Linked DNA regions of Homo sapiens: region 1 is linked to region 2. Evidence: fine-mapped expression QTL. A gene starts in region 2. The other region holds a variant in brackets. All regions are shown on one strand. Distances are from middle to middle.

Evidence for each region. PIP is the estimated chance that this variant, and not a neighbour inherited with it, causes the effect.
Region 1: its variant is the best candidate, but not a certain one, in a credible set for the expression of LINC00448 in testis (GTEx, PIP 0.54).

The regions. Positions count from the first base shown.
Region 1 is chr13:62,818,652-62,821,598 of GRCh38, forward strand. No RefSeq gene overlaps it. Among named protein-coding and RNA genes, the nearest start is that of LINC00448, 23 kb to the left of the region's middle. The variant C/T (reference allele first, on the strand shown) is at 1,480.
Region 2 is chr13:62,795,339-62,798,285 of GRCh38, forward strand. It overlaps LINC00448 (long intergenic non-protein coding RNA 448), which reads right to left and starts at 1,354. Exons shown (of 8, transcript NR_047029.1): 1 at 1,222-1,354.

The DNA.
Region 1 (2,947 bases), 23 kb after region 2:
AGTTCATATTGGAAATTGAAATGCTGTTCCAGATATTTCAGTTATCTCTGGATAATCACACTTTTATGAATTTTCTTTCCAGCATGAAAGTGGCCAAAAGGGGCAAGGAAATACCCTCCTCTTTACTTCTACCTCTCAAATATTTGCAAGTGTACATGTTTAACAACCAAATTAACTTGGAATACTATAGCCACAGATTGGTCTAAAAGGCATAGTTTTGAAAAATTATAAAAACATCAAGTATATTTTTAGGTAGCAAGATTAGTAAAATATTGTCCATGTACAATCGCCCAACTTTATCAAAAGTATCAATTTTCTGCTGCTCTGTGAGAAACCACCTCAGAATCGTGCCTTAAAACAACATTCATTTGTTTGTTCATGATTCCGCTATTTGAACTAGATTCAGGTGGGCTGTTTTTCTGGGATTGTACCTGTAGTAACTAATATGGATGCAGGAATGTTATAGTCACCCTGGAGCAGGATATTCCCAACAGTTTTAGCTTCAAGTCTGATAGTTATTTTTTTCTAGTCCCTTTATTTCCTGAAAACTGTTAAATAGGTCCATAAGCATGATTAAATATAGTTTTAATATATTTGGCAAAATTTTTAAAGATGATGATGTTTACTGCTGTTTACTTCATACCAGGAGGCACAAAATGATTGATTCTCTCACTTTTAATAATGCTATATTCGATCAATAGAGTTGAATCAAATGTGAGCCTGACCCCTCCATTGTAGTGGCTTTCATCAAAATGAGGTTAAATAGCAATTTCCAATTGTTTCCAAAAGCTGTTATTTTATTTGAGTTTTATTTGGTATTTCTCACTTCCTGGCACAAACATAAATATATGCATTATTGGTGGGCACATTAAAATATTGAGTACATCAATTTTTGTTTCATTAAAAATTCCAATTGTTATTCAAGGGACAGAGAAATGATGTCATACATAGCATTGCATAAGTGAAAGAGAGGTTACAGGATTTTCAAAATACATAACTGGAACATAAGAATGCTAAACAATACCTTTCTAAATATATAGATATATAATTACAAAAACACACAACCCAAGTTGATATTCTTTTGGAAACACTTCATTCATGAGATAAAAAAAAAAAAAAAAAAAAAAAAAAGACAATGGGAGTTCCAGGAAGGTTCAGCAAACTTTTACTGAAAGAGCTAGATAGTAAATATTTTGGGCTTCGAGAGCTCATTGTCTTTATCACAACTACTCAGCTATGCTGTTGAAGCCTGAAAGCAGCCATCATCAATGTGTAAACAAATAATTGTGCCTAAATTCTAGTAAAATTGTATTTCCGAAGCACACCACAAGCAAGATTTGGACCACAGATGAAACTTTACTGACCCATGATTTAAAAAATAGAAATAAAGGCACAAACAGAATTATAAGATGCATGGCCCTAGACATTCCCTTTGCATTGATTCTCAGTAAAGTGGATGGGACCAAGGGCATTTACTTC[C/T]CCAGGTGGATGCTTTATAACTGAACTCAACTTCTTATAGTACAAGGAGTTTCCCACACCACAATAGTTGGACATGAGCTTGGTCCCATCTTCCCTTAGGTTTTCAGTTGCCCGGTGGCAGCAATTCATTAAGCTGGATGGGATTGATTCTCAGTAAGATGGATGGGACCCAAGGCATTTACTTCCCCAAGTGCATGTTTTATAACTGAACTCAGCATCTTATAGTACAAGGAGCTTCCCACACCACAGTAGTTGAACATGAGCATGGTCCTAACTTCCTTTAGGTTTTCGGTTGCCATCTGGCAGCAATTCATAGCAGTTGTATAATAAGTGGTTACCACTAAAGCTTAGACTCTCTGGTACCTAAACATTTATTTTTGCCCCATGACCTAAAATTCTATTCTCCTATTGTCATATAGAGGTCAGTCAACTGGAGCAAGGCACTCTTTGAATGGGTGGTGGAAAGCAGAGGATCTCAAGAAGCACTTGGATCCAACACGTATAAAGTTGTTCTTGCTAACTGTTGTAGTAGCCACACCCATTGTCAGACACAATCATTTAAATGTTCTATCATTTAAATGTTCCATGTACATCTAAATGTACATGGATATTACTGATGAAGTGATTTCTCTTAAAAATTTAGAGTTTTTTGGATATATTATCTCTATAAAATTAACTTTATGACATTTTCTGGCATACATTGCTTGTTCAAAATCAGTAATTTTCATATACAGTATGCCAACAGTATGCATCAAGAATGTGAGAGTTTTAAGCAGAAAAAAAATGAGCCATCAGTTCATGTTACTGCAATTAGTCAATCAATTTTCAATAGAGATTGACTGCATTTAAATATTAAGCAATGTGTATTATTCAGGAGACATATATCTTTTTTTCTAAATCACAGTCATGTGCTGCATAAAGACCTTTGGGTCCATGACCAACAGCATATAAAATAGGATCCCCTAAGATCATGATGAACCTAAAAATTTTCTATTGACTTGACATTGTAGCCATCCTAAAGTCATAGTGCAACACATTACTCATGTGTTTGCAATGATACTGGTATAAACAAACCTATTGTACTCCCAGTTATATAAAAATGTAACACACAATTATGTACAGTATATAATACTTGAATATAATAATAAATGGCCATGTTACTGGCTTATGTATCTGCTATGTGATTCTTTTTATCATTAAGGCATACTCCTTCTTCTTATAAAAAGAAGTTAACTGTAAAACAGCCCCAGGCAAGTCCTGCAGGATGTATTCTAGAAGAAGGTATTGTTATCATAGAAAATGTCTGCTCCATGCATGTTATTGCCCCTGAAGGCCTTCCAGTGGGATAAGATGTGGAGGTGCAAGACAGTGACTTTGATAATCCTGACCCTGTGTAAGCCTAGGCTAAGGTGTGTGTTTGTGTCATAGTTTTTAACAAAAAGGTATAAAATGTAAAAGAAAATAAGAT
Region 2 (2,947 bases):
GCTGCTGCTTAGAACCCTGATATGACTTTCATGATGAAAAAAGTTATGAACCACTCTGGAAAATAAGAGTTCATGAGTTGAAAATTCTGCTGTAGGTAATGAAACAATAATGGAAGCAGAAAGGTTAAATAGCTTTTCTAAAGATCAACAACCAGTAAGTAGCAAAGCAAAAATCAGTATAAAATTTTACAACCTCAGGAGCTTTTAACCATATCACTGATTTTTTCTAGAGCTTTTTGTTAATGAAGTAACACTTTCTATAGACATGATGTTGTAGCTAAAGGGATAGCTCCCAATATTAATACTTAATTTTTTTTGGCTATACATTTTAAAAATTATTACCTTAAAACAAAGTAATAAAATCTCCTTGCATGCAATGGATTCTAAAATGGGTAAAGATAATACTAAAGTTGTCTAGTTGTCCTTTAATGTACTGTACTATAATTTCATTATAAAATCTGTTAAAATATTGAAAAACATTTAATATTACATTCTACATGAATTAGATTTTATAGAATTTTCTGAAATAAATACAGCCATAGCAATGTATAATAAAAGAAAGATATGAAAATAGAAAAAAACTTCAAAAAATGTTAAAACTTGATTTTTTATACTTTTCAGAATGAGAGAAACAAGTTTTTAAGTGAAAATGCATTATCAGGTAACAACTACAAAAAATCACCAGCTCCTCAGCTTGCAAAGATCTCAAGGCCAAGTGCCTTTTCCATCATCAAGGATAAGAGCACTAACCTCAATACTGATTCACAGGAAAGTTTTTATTTTTTTACTGCATTTATGAGCATTTATATAGTTTTCATACCTTAGGCAACAAAATGACAATGGCAGAATTGACCTTTTGAAAAAAAATATATTTTTACTCATTTCAAAAGAGAAATGAGTTCAGACATGGAGCTACAAAGTTCAAAAAAACAAAAAGATAAAAGATGCTGAAAATGAATGGAATAGGTACATATATTTTTAAATGTATATAAAATGTAATATATTAAAGTAAAAAATATAATTAGAGGTTAAAGTCTAAAAATTTTGAGTAAGTTGTTTGGATTTAGAAAATGTATGCTTTACTGAATACAGATGATTAATTTCTGGCGTGTAAGGGAAACATTATCTTTCTCAATAATATATTGCCCTAGTCTGTTTGGGCCGCTATAACAAACACAACATAGACTGGCTTGCTTATAAAAACAAAAATGTATTTCTCACAGTTCTGGAGGCTGAAAGCCTGAGTTCAGGGTGCTAGCACAGCTGGGTTCTGGTGAAGACTTGCTTCCTGGTTCATAGACTGCCATTTTCTCCCTGTATCCTCACATGGTGGAACTTGCAAGGGATCTCTCTGGGGTCTCTTTCATAAGAGCTCTAATCCCATTCATGAGGGCTCCACCCTCATGCCATTATCACCTCACAAAGGTTTCACTTACTAATCCAATCACATTGGGGGTTTCAATTTTGACATATAAATTTTGGGGAGGATACAAGCATTCAGTCCATAACATTATATATATATATATATATATATATATATATATATATATATATATATATATGGCTGGGGCAGTGATAAAGTGTTCCATATTATATATATATATGTTATATATGTTTCTTATATATGTTATATGTTATATATGTTTCATATATATGTTATATATTATATGTTTCATATATATGTTATATATTATATATGTTTGATATATGTCATATATTATGTATGTTTCATATATGTTATATATTATATATGTTTCATATGTATATATGAAAATTAAGCAGATAAAATTCCATTTTCCATCCTTCCAAGAAGAAGGGGTGAGTCTTCTATTAAGGATCTACTTGCTAAACTTAAAAGCCTGTTGAGAACTCAACCCTATATTTTTTGTACAATTATATTTTGGCATAACGAAAACACATAATTTATAAAATGCTCAAAGATACGTCATTTAAAAAGCAATACAAGAACAAAATACAGCATTTATATGCAATAAAGTATTGTCACAAGAATGAGGATGAATTATTTGGAATGTAACATGTATGCAATATGTTTTTATAAAATTGTGAAAAATGAAGAAGAACATAGGTCATGAATGAATGTAGATATATACTATAACACTGTAATGTAATGTGCTTAACACTTAGGTTTAAAAAAAGAGTTTTGGAAATGGTGTTAAAATAAGTTGGCTATTAATGTGATGTATTCCAAAAAGTTTTGGTTGGAAGAGAAAATGAATAAGCTGTCTTTCACACAAAACCAGAGCAAAAAATAAGTGTGTTTACTGACAATAAATAACTCCTTCTATTACACCAGAAAAGAAATGACTATGTACAGTATAGAGCTTTTTCCACAAATATGCCTTTAGTACTTATCTTTATGTATGTGCCTTACAAAAACTATTAATATAAAATATTTAATTAATTGCTATAAACGTGATGATTGTTTATGAGAGTAAAAGTAGGTCTGTTAAGTCGATGGCCCTTTATTTTGAGAAGTGTATATGTGTGTGTGTGTGTGTATGGGTGAGTGTGCGTGAGAGCGAGAGAGCGAGAAAGGGAGGGAAGGACAGGTATGTTTGTACATGCGTATGTTTGTTTGCCTGTTTGTTTTAACATTTATCTAAGATTGTTTTTTTCATTGAGGGGTTGGGGGGCGGGTGGCTTCAAATGACTTAGTCGGCTCATGTTTGCAAACTCAGGAGTAATTGCTGGGGCAGTGATAAAGTGTTCCATATAATCGAATTAAAATAATACATTGAAATTGAGTGAGGAAATATATAAATCCAGGTTAAGTGCATTTGGAAAAGAATCAGAGAGAAGAAATGCAGTGATGTTGAAGTGCAGCTGAGACTGAAGAAACAATAACATGTATCTAAAAGGGATTTTAAAATGTAATCTCTTTTATCATTTTACATAAGATAAAAATTTTCATAAAACTTAGAAATGT